2 separate regions of the Homo sapiens genome follow, and region 1 is linked to region 2. The links come from fine-mapping of genetic effects on gene expression. Tissue or cell type: whole blood. Region 2 holds a variant in brackets; the other region holds the start of a gene. All regions are shown on one strand. Distances are between the middles of the regions.

Evidence for each region. PIP is the estimated chance that this variant, and not a neighbour inherited with it, causes the effect.
Region 1: CDH23 starts here. The variant in region 2 is fine-mapped to the expression of CDH23 in whole blood (TOPMed, PIP above 0.99).

Annotation. Positions count from the first base shown.
Region 1 is chr10:71,391,942-71,400,077 of GRCh38, forward strand. CDH23 (cadherin related 23) reads left to right here and starts at 4,979. Exons shown (of 70, transcript NM_022124.6): 1 at 4,979-5,377. RefSeq lists a silencer at 4,498-4,587 and an enhancer at 5,271-5,782.
Region 2 is chr10:71,690,094-71,698,093 of GRCh38, forward strand. CDH23 (cadherin related 23) reads left to right here. Exons shown (of 70, transcript NM_022124.6): 20 at 375-491; 21 at 4,054-4,166; 22 at 5,325-5,432. Among named protein-coding and RNA genes, the nearest start is that of C10orf105, 26 kb to the right of the region's middle. RefSeq lists an enhancer at 3,960-4,029. The variant A/G (reference allele first, on the strand shown) is at 4,742.

The DNA of each region.
Region 1 (8,136 bases), 300 kb before region 2:
GTAAATGAACAAACACACAGTCCCTGCCTTCGAGAATCTTAAAATCAAGTGTGCTGTGGACTAAACATGATCTTGAAGCCGCTGTACAGATGTGGCCGCTTCTGGAGATCCCTGGGCAAGATGCCCTGGATATGGAAGGAACTGTATATCACTTTTTTTCTTTCTTTCTCTTTTCTTTTTAATTTTGGGAAAGGGGAGGTAGCATTTCTCTAACAATGCTGACTCTACGCTGCTCTACACTCCCTACTACAATCACCAGAGGAATCATCAGATGGTCTGTACCAGGCAGGGTTCTCATGGTCGCTAGCAACAGAAATGAACTCTGGCTACCTGATGCAAAAATTGAACTCACTAGTTAGTTAACAGGGGCAGATTCAACCAGAAGACTGGAGGACAGGCCCAGACAACAAATAGGAACAAAAGGAGGCTGGTGGCTAAGGATGCAGCTGAAAATACAACCCAGGTCAGGCTTCAGAAGTCCTGGAGTCAGGGCTAGGTGCTTTGCATAGCTTCAAAATGATTCTTGACTGTTTACAAACGTTATGGTCCTTCTCAAGGTTCAAAGTTGAGAGTGGAGCTTCTGACTGGCTTGCCTAGTCATGCACTGTGCCCTGCAGGCAGAAGGCAGGACAAATGAGGACCTCCCTTTTTAGCTTTTGCAATTAAAGCAGGGCCTGGTCTTACCCCTTACTTCATACAGTGGGGGTCCCCCAGTAGGAGTGGGGTTTGGATGATGCTGGGTCCTGGGAAGTTGGCATCTCTGTGGCTCTTCGTGGCTGTCCAAGCGCTTTCATATCCACCCCAGGAGGGAGGCTGGGCAGGCACCATTCTCTCATTTTCAGAAATGGAAACAAGGCACAGAGTGGTTCAGCGACTTGTCCAGGACCACATAAGGTGGCAAGGGGTGCTTCTTTATCACACTGGTGTACTTTCCTTGATGCCCCAGGGGCTTGGAGAGGAGGCAAATGTTTCCTGAGGGAAGGGCTCTAGGGAGAACTTCGAGAGCTGTTGTTGAAACAGCCCTGATACGGTTTCAGGAATGGAAATCCCAGAAAGACAGAAAGGTGAAAACTTAGGTGATTCATCTCCTGGAATGAAGAGATTAGAATTTCTGAGATGCTGGTTCAGAGAATAGAGGCTGGGTTCTTCCCCCCAGCTCTGAGCCTCCTGCAAACGCCATCTCCTGCCTTTGGCTGGTTCATGTGCAGAAGAGCAAGACTGCTGTTCACCTCCGGGATCCAGTAGCTCCCATGGCTGCCTGGGGAGAGTCCCTGTGCATGCCTCCAGGCTTCCGCACATGCTGCTCCTCCACCTGGAGCGCCCTTCTGCTTCTGCTGCCTGTGACCTCCTGGTCAATCTCGGCTCACTGCAGCCAGCTCTGATGTCCCCTTGTCCAGGCAGCCTTTCTGGACTCAAGATTTCATGACAATGAATCACCCCACTCTCCTTTGGGCCATTTGTCCACTTTGCCACACTTACCTTTCTAGGTTGTAACTGATTCATCTGCCCCTCTCTCCCACTGGGAGTGCCTTGAAGACAGGATGGATGTCACTCACATCTGTGTCCCCGGTGTGCGGTGCTGGCCTGTTCCCCTCAGGGCCATTCTCTCCTCCCCTCTGTGGTGCTGCTCTGCATCACAGCAGGCTGACCCCGCAAACTCCCAGGTCCACTGTCTTCAGGTGGGAGACGAGAGGGCTGGGGAAAGAAGCCGGGATGTGTCTTCACACTCCACCGTCTCTGGCAGTAGCTGTGTTTCTGTGACTCGAGCCCACACCACACAGGCCCACTGTGGTCTCACCTTCCACCGTGTGCCCTGATCCTGGTCACTCTGCTTCCTCCCTTATCCCTCCAGTCTAGGGGTGGCACACTTTCTGCTGTTGCTGCACTCTGGGTCGCCTCGCCATCCAGTTAGAATTCTCAGCCCTTCCATTCCCTGTCTGTTACACACTCACGGTGGTTCTGTGGGCTGGCTGCATCCCAACTGACACCCCAGTTCCCAGCACGGTGCTTGGCACAGTGTGTAACAGAAGGTTTGAGGGGTGGAGAACCTTGAAGAACACCTCTTCTCATGCTTTCATTTTACGAATGGGGAACACAAGGCCAAGAGAGGTCCAGTGTCCAGCCCGCTACCATCCAGCTAGAGGGTGACCTAGAACTCAGATCCCGCTCTCCGGACTCCTGGCTCCATCACACTGTGTAAAAGCATGACCACCTAAGACATGTAGGACCACGACTCCAGTTCATTTGTCCAAGAGCCTACTTGGCATCTCTGTTCTGTGACTGCACAGGCCTCTCACACAACATGTCCCAAGGGAGCTCTTGCTCAGGTCTCCATAGTGGCCTCCTCAGAGGGCCCCATCACAGGAAACAGCACACTGTCCATCTACCACCACAAGCCAGAAACCCAGAAGTCTCCTTGACCCTTTGCTCTATCTCACGTATAACCACTCCCTGTCCTCCTGGCCCTGTAGATTTTTACCTCCTGAAAGTCACTTCTCTCCACTTCTACCCACCCCCTCATTCCAGGCCTCTGTCACCAATCACCTAGACACTGCAGCAGCCTGAGGACATGTAAGCTTCACCAGGGCAAGGATTTGTTTGGCGCAAGCATGCGTGTCTGTGTGCATGTGTGTGTGCCTGTGTGTGTGTGCTTGTGTGTGTTGTTCATTGACATATCCAAAGTGTCTAAATTCACAGGGGTTAACTAACGTTTTCTGTAAAGGGCCAGGCTGTAAATATTTCTTGTTTTTGCAGGCCATGCGGTCCCTCTTGAAATTCCTTATGTCTGTAGTTGTAGTGTGAAAGGAGACACAACCAAACAGGCCATGTCTGTGTGCCACTAAAACTTTCTTTACAAAAACATGTGATGAGGCAGATTTGACCTCTGGGTAGCGGTGTGCTCACCCCTGGTCTAGAAAATTTCTTGGCACATAGTATTTGACAAATAAATACTTTTAATTGAAGCAGTCTCTTCTCATCAACTGTTGCCTCCCAATCAATTCTCTCTCTCTCTTATTTTTTTTTAGATAGAGTCTTAGTGATCCTACTGCCTCAGCCTCCCAAAATGCTGCCATTATAGGTGTCAGCCACCAAGCCCGGCCTCTGAAGCTTTCAGTCTTAGGATAAAGATCAACTCCTGATTAAGGCCAACACACCTGCACAGTCTGGCCCCCACTCCATTGTGGCTTTACAGTCACTGCCAAGGACTAGAGGGACCACTCAGTGACTCGGATCAGAGAGGGGGTGCTTAAAGCCAACAGATGGTGCAGGCTCACTCACCCTCCCAAGCTTCCCAGGAGCGTTTCCTCGTACGCTGGAGGCACGGAGCTCTCCCCACCCTTTCTGGACTTCCTGACATATGCCAGCTCCTTCCCACCTTTGCACAAGTTGATTGCGACTGCGGTCACCAAACCATTGTTCCTGGCCCAGCCGTTGCCTGCAGTGGGCACCTGGGGCCTTTGCACATGCTGTTTCTCCTGCCTAAAACTCCACTCTCTCTCCCTTGCTCATCCTTCAGCTCAGTCACCTCCTCTAGGAGGTCTTCCCTGATCCCCTCGGCCAGGCGCCATTAAAGCACTCTTCTTCCTAGCACTGATTCTGGCTGTAATTTTACCTGCTTATGTGTTTCATTGATGAATGTCTGGTTCCCCTACTAGAGAAGCTTCATGGGGCACAAAGACCAAGCCTGTTTTGTTCTCCATCCTATTCCTAGAAACTATTTCAGTTAGCTAGCACATAGCAGTGACTGTGAATGAATGAATGAATAATGAATGAGCGAATGGTAAGGAACTGGAGCTTTGGAACCAGATAGATTCTGGGTTCAATACCCGACTCCACCACAGGGGCAAGTCCCCAACCTCCTAAAGCCTGTTTCTCACTGTAAAACTGGGATAATGGCAGGGCCCACCAGAAAGACTTTATTGAAGATAGAATGAGTTGAGGCCCAGAAAGTCTCAGCCCAGAGCCTGGCTCCAGGCAGGTACTGTCAATGTACTGACTGGAACAGTGACAGCTCGGAAATCCTGTCATGTGAGAAATAGTTTTAAAAAATCAGAATGCTTAGCCCCGGGGAAGTAAAGATCAAAGGTAGGGGATAAACCTCTTCCATTACCTGCATATGGACCCTTTCTTGATCCAGCTGTCTCAGAAAGCCATAAAGTCTCTGTCCCTATAGGTGTGCAAAAAGGAGCCGGGAGACCATGACTCGGGCACTGCAGACGGAGCTCCCGCAGGGGTGAGGGCGCCTAAGTGACCTCACGGGTCTCCTCCAACCCGGGGTCCTCCATTTCTAAGCACTTGGAGGCCTCTTGAGCTCTAGTGAGGGAGGAGGCGCAGATGGGAGCGCACGAGTCGGGTGGGCAAAGGCAGCTGGTTGGAGAGAAGCGTAGGCCAAGAGGCCCCAAGGACTAGAGGGACTGCTCAGCGACTCTGGGAGCAGAGAGGGGGCGCTTAAAGCCAACAGATGGCGCGGGCTCACCTAGGCCGAGCGCCCGCTCGCCCGCCCGGGCTTCCCGGGAGCGTTACCTCGCTCTGCCTGAGGCGCGGGGCGGACGAGACGCTGGGGGCCCCATCCCCCTGCGCGCCCCTCTGCGGGACGGCTGGCGGCCTGGCGGGGCACTGCTCTGTCTCGCACCTGGGGCCTCTTCCGCGGGCTTCCTCCCTGCCCCTTTGGGGGATTCGTAGAGTTGCCACAGCAGCCGGTGCCATGACATCGGCAGAGGGCAGCTTCGCCAGCACTGAAATATTCATGCCCTGAGCGCCCGGCGGGGCTCGGCGCCGCTCCCGGGGGTCCGGGCGGGGCCGGGCGGGAGCTCGGGGGTCCTGGCGGCCTGAGGGGTGGGGGAGCGCCGAGCGCGGGCGGGCGGGCGGGGGCCGGGCGAGGCGGGAGGTGAGGGAGGGAGCTGCGGGAGGCGGGGTCTGGACGGCGGGGGCCGAGCGGGGCGGGGGCCGAGCGGGGCGGGGGAAGCAAGGGAAAGTTGATCGCGGACTTGAGCGGCGGCGGCGGCTCGGGAGAGAGGGACGCGGGCTGCAGGCGCGATGCTTGGCTAGAGGACGCGTCCGACGGCGGCCGGACGCTGAGGTGGTCGGGGCTAGTCAGCCCGGCCTGGGCATGGAGCGCGGGGTGGCAGAGCCTCTGGACGTTTGGGGCGCGCCCAGTCCGAGCCCCCGGCGCGCCTGAAGTTGCGAGCGGCGAGCGGCGAGCGGCGAGCGGCCCGCGGAGACCCAGGAGCTGCCGGCACGCCGCGGATGAGCCTTCGCGCCGGCGGGAAGACGCGGCGGTGGCCAGGGCCAGAGCAGGCGGCCCGCGGGGGCCGATCCGGCGGAGAGCAGAGCCCGAGGCGAGGCGAGGCGCGGCGCCGCTGCACACACGCACACGGTACCCGGAGCCACGCACCGCCTCTTCCCTCCTCGCTTCCCTCTCCTTCCCCTCGCCGTTCGCCCGCCGCGCGGCGGGGAAGTTGGTGGTGACCGCGGCTGCCGAACCACTTGTTCCCAGCGCGGCCATCGCCCGTGGCGGGCGCTCGCGGCATCCTTCGGTCCCAGGCCCCTGGCCCTAGCCTCGCGCCCCGCTCCGAGCTCCCCGACGCGCGGCAACTTTGATTCCTGGGAACTCGAATTCCATTCGCGTTGGCCTTGGGAGGACAGGCATCCCATCCCCCATCCCCGGTCCTGGGACCGCGAACATTTGGGGGCTTTGCTCTCGGCGCTACGGAGAGGGTCCAGGTCTGGGGTGGAGAGATTTTCGAGAGTGGAGCGCGTTGGGATCCAATCCCCTCCCCTTCTGAGCCCTGGGTCCCCATTTGGACAGTGGGGATGGGGTGGGGCGCACCCCTACTGCGGGCTGGGCAGAGGCGCTGAGGGGAACTAAAGGCACGTAGTTCTCCCCTCCCCTCATCAAGTCCCTGTGCCCGCGGGAGACCCCAGGGGACTTACACATCCTCCCAAATTCGGTCCAGCTATGGGAAGACGCGCCCCTCGAGGAGCCGGGAGCCTTTTGCGGCTCTCGCTTCGCCTTCCTGGCCCTGGAACTGGTCCGCTACGAGCGGTGCTGGCTGCCCCCAGGAGCTGGCACCCGGGAGCACTGCCCCTCATCTCCACCGTAGGTCAGCCCAGGACTCGAGCAGAGCCCGCGTGTTCCAAGGCAGTGACGGCGCCAGCCGGCGGGGACTCTGCCTGGCTTTCTCGGAGCGGGCACCTAGAGAGGCTGCCTCCGTGCTGTGAGCGGAGATCCGATGCCAGCCGCCGCCCCACTGCGACCCCAGCCCCAGCCCTAGTGCTGTCAGCGGTCCACTGGGAGGAAATTAGCCTTTCCTCGGTAGTAATACTCCCCCATCCTCCCTAGTAATTCAGAAAGCAGAGCCTTCTTTTTCTACGTCCTTTGCCCTCTCAGACCAGAGCTGGCATTGACATTGACCTCGCCTTCCAGCCCCTTGGGAAGTGCCCCAACCCTAATTTGGATTTTGAAATAAGCTAGAGAGACACAGGAGTGTGTGTGTGTGTGTGTGTGTGTGTGTGTGTGTGTGTGTGTGTGTGTTGGGTGGAGTCAGACCCTCACACAGGGAAGAATTAGGTTGTGGGGTGTGGGGTGGGGCGGGCTTTAAGAACCTAGTTGGGGCCAGTTGCATGGTGATGATGAGTCAGCCCACGATGGGGAGAGCTGGCTTGGAGTTAGTGCTTGGTTCGTGGTGCAGGGGTAGGCGCACTGCGGTCAGCACCTACAGGGGTGGGGGCACTAGATGTTACTCTGCCAAGGAGGAGCTGGGAAGGGGCCCCTTGCCTGGGGGAATAGCAAGGCTTGGTTCTGGCTGCCAGGGCTGGGGAGGGCAGGAAGGCAGAGTGTCTCGTGGTAGAGGGTGGGTGTCCCCCGTGAGTTGGGAAGGTGGCACACAGAAGCCACTGGTGTGAACCAGGAAGCTCTGCCTCGAGTGCTGGAGGACAGCAGTGAGGGGTGGGAGGCCCAGAGCTAGCATCCTGGCCCCGTCTGTGCTGGGTCCGCATATACTTCTCAGACTTGGCCTTCCTCACCTCTAAACAGCTGGGCTCCTCACGTCTGCTTACCAAAGGGCTTGATTTGAGGGTTGTGATAGCAGATGGTCCTGGTTGCCTCTGGAATAGCTCCCCCACTCAACAAGCTACCTTACCTGCAGTTTCACCATTTGAGGTTCATTTATTTGAGCCAAGTATTTTAAAGGGCACCTTCCTGAAGTGCTCATTTAAAATGCACATTCTTCTGGGAGGTGAAGGTGTAGCGGAACCTTGCTCCTCAGAGTGTGGCCTGTGGACATGCAGCGTCGGCATCACCTGGGGACTTGTTAGAAATGCAGACTCTTGGGCCCCACCCCAGACCTTCTGAATCAGAATCTGCATTTGGTAAGATCCTTGGGTGACTCATGTGCTCAGTAAAGTTTGAGCTGTGGTCCACAGTGCCTTCTCTAAGAGGCATTGCATAGTTCCTTGGTGCAGAGTGTTGTATAGGGCAGTGGATAAGAACACAGAGATGAGAATGAGATTGGAGCTTCTCTCTTTGGCCAGTTTTGCTAGGCTCGGATTAATAGTCCACCACTGGCCCCTTCGGGTTGTACCATGCTAATGCCACAAGAGTGTTTGTGTTTTAGGGTTTTTTAAATAGATTAGAATAACATCTCAGCTTTGTGTGCAGTCAAAACTGTACATGGAACTGGGTGCAGTGGTGAACTCCTATAGTCCCAGCTAATGGGGAGGCTGAGGCAACAGGATTGCTAGAGCCCAGGAGTTCAAGGCTGTAGTGTGCTAGGACCGTGCTTGTGAATAGCCACTGTACTCCAGGCTGGGCAATATAATGAGACCCTGTCTCTAAAGAAAACCAACAAAAACCCCTGCACATGGGCCAGAAAGAGGTGAGTGGAGGGGGCAGGGTTTCCGGAAGCTGGGTGTACACACTCTGCCTCTAGGACGCCTGAGACGGAGACTAGATGCTGTCCCTCAAGCAGAAGGAATTGAGCAACTACTCTCCACCTCATCTGCCCCTCCCAGATGGGTGGATCAGCCAATTAATAACACCTCTCAGCGGCCTTAGGACTTATGCAGAGGGGAGGAGCATGAGAGCCAATTTGGAACAGCCTCCAGAGGGGAAGATACTGACCAAGCTCTCCCCTG
Region 2 (8,000 bases):
TAATTTAATATGGAATTTCATGTCTTTTGACTCCAAGTGACAGTTGGCCAATCTGAGTGTATTTAATATAGTGGCCAGCCAAGCAGGGGCCAGGGAGACAGGAAGACATCAGAGGGCCCAGTCCATCCCTAAGCCTCTCATGAGCCTTGTCCCCACCCAGCCCAGCGATCTCAGCTCCAAGAGCAACGATTGAGCCGCCCTTGTCCCAGGGATGTCGCAACAGGCAGGCCTCCCACCTCCCTGAGAGCTGGTCACTGGGAGGGTCCCACGTCCTCCTCTTGGGCCAGCGCAAATGCTGCTCCCAGGGCTGGGGCCTTGAAGCCAGGGGCCCAGGGTGAGCAGCACCCCCTGCCCCCACCTTTTTCCCCCTGAAGGAGCCACGGTGCTGTTCCTGAATGCCACAGACCTGGACCGCTCCCGGGAGTACGGCCAGGAGTCCATCATCTACTCCTTGGAAGGCTCCACCCAGTTTCGGATCAATGCCCGCTCAGGTGAGCCCCCCCACCCCAAGTACCCTGGTCCTCCACACCCTGAGGCTGACTGTCCATACCCGGCCCCAGGACCAGCCTCTGGGCCCAGGTCCCCTTCCTTTCAGTTTTGAGCAGACCAGCTTTGAGCACCAGTGTAATCCATGAAATATTAATTTGAGTGTGATTACTGATCTTACCCAAAAAATCACAACGTGAATTGACCCAGTGAAGGACGTCTTTCAAGGGTGAAGAGTTGTATTATGTTTTAAATGTGCTCCATCTTACAAAGAGCTGGTTAACACACCCCTCTTCAGGAACACCTTTATTAAAGCCTCAGGGTCCCCCTCCCTCAGCTGCTGACCTCATTCTTAAAGCCTGGCTCCTCTTCTTACACGGATGTGTGCCTCAGTTTCCCCACCTGTAAAATGAGGAAGATCATATTAGGGCTGTTGTGTGGATTAAATGATACATAATAGGGAGCAACTTTGATTAGTCCCTGGCACACGAAAAGTGCTAAAAAAAATTACCATCATTATTCTCTTTTGTTTATTCACCTGTGAGCCCCCTGCCCCCAGCTCCCAGCTCAGCCCATGTAACTCTCTTCTTTCTTCTTCGTCTCTCCATGTACATTCCTCAGTTTTCTCTCTTCCTTGAAGCTGGGAGAAAAAGTGGGCAGAAAGAAGCAGCAAGAGATCCAGGCTTTCAGCCAGACCTGGGGAAGAATTGGGACTTCTGTACATTCATTCATATGTTCATTTATTCATATGTTCATTCAGAAATTGGGGTGGGGGCTGCTCTGAGCCAGGTGCTGGGGTACAGGAAGGAATAAGACATGGCTCTGACCTCATGAGGTTGCTAGTCAGCTCAGTGGGCATGCAAGGCACCCCACTTCCAATACGCATTTCTGTATGAGTTAAAGGAACTGTCGATGCTAAACAGCTACACCCTATCTCAGTGGCTTGAGACAATACAAATTCAAATTCATATAGTCAACCCATGTAGATGTTGAGTGACAGCCTTCCACATGATGATTCTGGGACCCAGGCCCCTTCCATGTTGTGGCTCCAAGGTCACTGCAGAAGGGAAAAGAGAGCATGGGTTGTCAGAGCACTAGGAGGAGGTTATGGGCCAGGCCCTGCCTGGCAGTCACATCCAAGTAATAATTCTCCCCTGGGAAGGGAGCAGGAATCTTTGGTGGACACTGGCCATCCCTGCTGCAGGTGGTCAGTGGCCAGCAGGGCATCAGCTCTTCCTGCTATCCATCCCTCCACGTTGGAAGTCAGCCTTCAATCCCTTTTCCTGGAGGCTTGGGGAGCAGATGGCCGGTGCTGATGGGTACGAAGACTGAGGAAGGGGACCCAGGGCCACTGTGAGCCTCCTTTTCTATCTCTGAGAAAGTGAGGGCCCTCCTCCCAGCTCTCAGGAGCTTCCCCCACAGTGAGCCCTCATTCCCAGGGGTCTCAGAGTCATGTCATGAATGGATATGAACCACATGCCCAGCACTGTTCCCAGGGCTCTGAGCAGCAGCAGCATCTCATTCTGCCCTCCTCACCTGTGAGGCAGGTACTAGCCTTATCCCCATTTTCCAGATGAGGAAGCTGAGCCACTGGGGAGGTTAAGTAACCTGACTGAGGACTCGCAGAGCACGAACTTCTGACTCCAGAATCCAAACATTAAAGGCGCCATTATATGAGTAGCTCCCTGGCCTTTTAGCCACCCCCGCCCTTGCCTCCCCAGTCGGGGCTCCAGCTCCACCTGGGGCCTTTAATGACACAGACATTTTCTTGCTGCCTTAACACGACTTTGTCTCCAAAGGTGTAAGTGTTTTCCTCTGAGTTCCTCGGTCAAATTAGCCAGGGCTGCTCCACAGAGGTGGCCTTAATTGGATCTAATTTCCTAGACAGGAGAGGCCATCTATCATGCCGACAAGTTCACGTTTAAAACTTTTTAGAGATTAATTTCTTCCTCGCCCTGCCAATTACTTGACACCACCCTGGCAGGGAGTGTGGCTCGTTGGGCAGACCTTTGTGAGTCTTCCATTCCTGGCCTCAGCACCTAAGCTGCCCTGTCACCCACCCCCAGCTCCCTGCTCAGCCCCTGCACAGACCAGAGGGCAAGCCAGTGTGCCACAGAGGGAACTGTCAGGGTAGAAGCAGTCCTAAAAGCAATCTGGTCCAGCTGCCTTGTTTTATGGTGGAAAGAACCAAGCACAGAGAAGTTAAGCGACTTGGCCCAGGTCACACAGCTCAGGCAATGGGGATAAAAAGATGGATAGCACACAGGCCCTGCCCGTGGAGAATGCTCACGGTCCATTGGAAGAAAACAGTCATTTTCTGAGTGTTGGGAGCCTCACCTAGAATTACTGTAGCCTCACAACGGCTCTGCATGGAAGTCACACTAATCTCCATTTTATAGATGAGAAAACTGAAGCTTCAAAGAATTAAAATTCTCCAAGGCCAAGCGTCTGGGAAGGGCCATAATCAGAATTCAAATCCACATCTCACATCTTCACCACGTGGGTGCTCTCCCATGGCTGATGCAAGATAGTAAATGGCCTGGCTGCTGTGATTGCTGAAGTCTGCTGGGACTGGCTCACCCTGCTCCCAAGAGCTAGCGAGGCACTCAATTGTGAACTCCATATTCAATACCACCAAGTTGGTAGCTTAAAATGGGCCCTGGTGGGGCTATTTACACCAAGGAAATTGGCAAATGCCTTTTTTTTTTTTTATTTTGGGGAGCCAGTTGTCAAACATTTACCAGCACGCCACTATCAGGGTGATGTTTGCATTTCAGTTACACCAAAATACAAAGAAAGACCAAATACAGGCGAACAAGAAATGTTGTTTAATTGTTCAGATTTAGCACACTAAAACAACTCGAGGCAATGTAATTATGCTCTTCACAATGTAATTAGGAAATTATTTTATAACTATTAATTATCAATGCACGATAAGGTTGGATAGGTTGAACTGTCCAGTAATGAGTCACAAGTTAGACGCATGTGAACACCCGGTGTTTTTATTTCCTGTCATTGTATTTCTGTGACTGTATAAATAAACAGTGCCTGGCACTGTTCTAAGATTTCCATGATCTTAATTAAATTAACCCCACAATAGCCCTATGAGGTAGTTCCTATTATGGTTCCCTTTGGACCCTATGAGGAAACTGAGGCACAGAGGATTGAAGTAACTAGCTCCAGGTGAGAAAGCCAGTAAGATAATGTCAAAAGTCTAAACAAGAGGTGATCTGTGACTGAGCTTAAGGCCTAATGGCCCTCCTGCCCTGTTCTCCAGCCCCTAACCCCGAGAATCAGCCTAGATTTTCCCACATCTGCAAATATTTCCTCCTCATGGGGTTATGTTGCCCAGCCCTGGGGAACCAGCTCCCAAGGCACAGGAGCTCTCCCGTCTCCCACTGTGAGCACCAGCTCAGGAACACATCCAGGCCGCCAGATCATGGTAGCTTGCTAACATTTCTCGTGCAAGTTCTCACCCTCTCTCCTTCCCTCGCTCTCTCTCTTCTTCCCTCCCTCTCTCCCTGGCCCACCCAAACCCTCTCACGCACCCACTTCTCTCTCTGGCAGGGGAAATCACCACCACGTCTCTGCTTGACCGAGAGACCAAGTCTGAATACATCCTCATCGTTCGCGCAGTGGACGGGGGTGTGGGCCACAACCAGAAAACTGGCATCGCCACCGTGAGTGCGCTCCCCTCCCGTGCCCCAGCTCCCCCTCGCCGGCCAGGCTGCTGCTCCCTGCTTGTACCTCTGGACCCCCGTGTCCTGAGCCAGTGTGAGGCTTTGTGAGAATGAGCAAGGGGGCGAAAATGAACCCATCAGCAGCAGAGGTCAGCCCCCGGGGCCACCACAGCTGTGGGGAAGAAAGGCATCACCACCAGGAATGTAGGGGCACTTGGGAGGAGCAAAATGAAATACTTTCTCTCCTGCCCCTAAAAATCCAGGAGGGCAGGTGGCAGAAGGCATGAGCCCCATAGGCCCCTCCTTGCCTTGGTGCCTGTCAACAAAGCAGAAGCAGGCATTCCTGCGAGGAAGAGCAGCTCAGAGCAGGAAGCAGGGCCCTGGAGGGTCCCTGGGGGCTTGTTCTCCCCCATCTAATGTGCCCCAGAGAGTAGAAAGCTAGAGGAACGAAACGTGGGGGCCTCGAATGAGCTCTCGGCTGCAGAAGTGAAAGGGGAAGTGAGAAGCCCTCTGTGGGAGAGGAAGCGGGAGGACCAGCTGACAGTCACTCCAGCCACCTCCCCTCTTTGTTCCCC[A/G]TTCGGTTTCTTTGGCTCACCCTCAAAACTGTGGCCCTCACCCAGTCTGCAGCAGCCACCCCATCCTTACCCAGCCAGAGAGGCTGGAGACGGTATCGCGTGGCCAGGGATTTGATGGAAAAATCCCCAGTGCCCTACTCTGTCAAGGGAGGCTCCTACTAATAGGAATCAGAGCCCTATAAATAATGTACCTGGTGGCAGGTGAGCAGGGAAATTGCTTGGCTTGTAGCTGAGACGGGGAGGCTCAAGGGATTCTATTAGATCCCCCACCCTGTCAGTCACCTTCAGCCAAGACTGGAGGCAGGGATGGGGGAAGCCCCAGGTCACAGCAAGGATTTCAGGGCTTATCACATCCATTCCACTGCCTCCTGATGGGACAACACTGGAACTCTCTCTCCTGAAGCGGCCTGGCTCCTTCCTGCCCTCGAAAGCCCAGGCTCTGCCCAAGGCTCCCAAGGTTGGTGGAGCTGGCAGAATTAATGCGAAGATTGCCCGTGGGCATCTGAGCACTTTTCCCCTGGCAGGCCCTGCCCTGGCCCATCTCAGCTGGGTGTGTCTCCCAGCGCCCCTTATGGCTTCACAGGTAAACATCACCCTCCTGGACATCAATGACAACCACCCCACGTGGAAGGACGCACCCTACTACATCAACCTGGTGGAGATGACCCCTCCAGACTCTGATGTGACCACGGTAGGTGGTGGCAGAGCAGCAGAACTGCCAGGCGGCCCTTCCCAGGGGTCTGTGCCCCTCCCACTGCGATTCCAGGGGGCCTTCCCCTATGGGGCTGGTGGACTCTGTGTCCCTCTGAGCTGGCTCTTGCAATAGAGTTCTAGCGGTTCTCCTGCATGGTGAAAGGCAGTCAGAGGTCAAGGGAAAGCCCTCATCCGGCCTCCAGTGTCAGTAGGCCTCAGGCTTTGTCAAAGGGAGCTTCAGGCAGCCCAGGGACAGTGGCAGGGGAGCTCTGGCCGGTTCCGCTTGTGAGCCACACGTGCCCTTAGAGCCCAGGACTCTGGCCACCCCCTCTGGAGAGCTCCCACCCCTACACTGCACAAGCCCCAGCTCCACCCCAGCACCTGTCTTTCACTGCTGTGCCCCTGCAGTCATCCATCTGGGTCACCTCCCCCACGGGCTGGCCCCCACGGCTGCCCAGCAGGGGTTTTGTTCACCTCAGGAATTTTCTGGCACAGGTTTGCCAGGTTTGCACAGGCCCCTGTGTGTGTTGTGTGCTCATGTGCAGGAATGTGCACAATTCAGGGTGCAGAGGGGAGACACGGTCAAAGCCAGGGCATCTCCAGCGGAGACCAGAATCCTGGGGAAACTGAGGAAGCCCAGGTCCCACCCCCACACCATCTGCTCTGCTGGGAGGTCCACATTTTTCAGCCTTCTCCTCCCCCACCCTGTACACCACGTGGCCTTACTTGAGGAGGCTTGTCCCCACATGAACATCCCCACTGCCACCCACCCAGCCCTGTGGGGGACATGAATCCTGGCAATTGACTGAACACCTGGGATGTGCTCTGAGCCTCCCCTGAGGGCTTCTCAGGAACTCTCTCCTCCTCACTGTAATCTCACAAGGCAGAGGGATTCCGTTGCCACTGCACTGTGGAGGAGACAGACTTAGAGCTTAAAGGCTTGCCCAAGGTCCCAAAGCTAGTAAAGGGTGCGGTCAGGACTCGAACCCTGGTCTGTCTGACTTGGAGACAAGGGATTAGAAACCACCTGGCCCAGTCCTTATTCCTCTGGGAGGGGGCACCCACACACCAGCTGACAGCCAGTCAGTGAACAATGTGGAAAGGAAGATAGGCATGACGGCCAATCCTTCCCTCCCTCTTTGTCCTTCCTTCCAGGTTGACCTCCTCTCCCATCCAGAGCCACTGCCAAGTATGGCTCTGGCACTGGAATAGGCACAGTGGAATAGGGCAGAGGTGAGGGATCTGGAATCTGCGATTTTTTTCAAAGCCCCGTAGAGGAATTCCTTCCAGCCCAGGGCCAGGTTTAGAAACCAGGACCCTCGCCCTTTGACACAGCTCTCTAGGCTCTTTGGTGGGTGCTCTCTGCTGCCGCCTTGTGGGCACTGCACTGGCCCAGGGTAACCTCCTCCCCACCCCAGCCAGGGATTCCAAGAGCTGGGGCTGGATCTCACCTCTGAACACCTTCTGGTCAACCCTCACCTTTCCCTTAGGTTTTTGGGAAATTCCTCCCAAAGGGGATTGAGGGGCAGGTGAGGAAGGTTGCTCTGGGAAAAGGGGGCTGCACAGGACACCAGCCTGGATTGCCGTTATCAAATAGTACACCCGGCAGACAAGGCGTGGGTGTGCCAGGTGAGGACTGCACACAGTCTTGGGCATCTGCAAGCTTTGGTCCCCCCGCCCTTCACCAGGTCTCCTGCCCTCCACATGTCCTTCTGAGCCATGAGCAGGCATGGACAATGGACCAAGGACCTGCTGCCCAGTGCCTCCTCACTTTCCAGGAAATCCACGAGCTATCAGGGAATGCCTACTGCATGCCAGGCCCCACGCTTGTCAGGCTGAGGGTACAGGAAGCAACACCAGGCCAGGTGCAGTGGCTCACGCCTGTAATCTCAGCACTTTGGGAGGCCAAGGCAGGCAGATCGCTTGAGCCCAGGAGTTTGAGACCAGTATGGGCAACATAGTAAGATCCCCACCCCCTTTATAAAATTTTTTTTAAGTAGCCAGGTGTGGTGGTGCACACCTGTGGTCCCAGATACTCAGGAGGCTAAGGCAAGATGATTTTTGAGCCTGGATGATAGAAGCTGCAGTGAGCCAAGATCACACCACTGCACTCCAGCCTGAGTGACAGAGTGAGACCCTGTCTCAAAAAAAAAAAGGAAGCTCCCGCCCTGCCTGCCTTTGGGGAGTGTCATGTCACTCTTCTATTCAAACCCCAGTGGTTCCCATCTCACCCTGTGCAAAAGCCAGAGCCCTTGCCAGACCTACAAAACCCGCAGGGTCTGCCCCATTGTCACCCCTGAGGAGTCAGCCGCATCATCCCTATCTGTAGTACAGAGCGGGTGTGGCTGTTCCACCGCTGGCGTCAGGTGGGCACAGGCTGGAGATTTTTGGTGCCCCAGGGTAGTATTTGAGACCTGAAAAATAAATGTGATGACCTGAAAGTTCAAAGATAAAAGGGCAAAATCAAAATTAAAACTTGTTATATGAAACATCTATCAGATGAAAGATGGCAGCTTTAGTAACTATGAAATTTAGTGTTTGTGAAAATTTCATTACATTCGAGGAC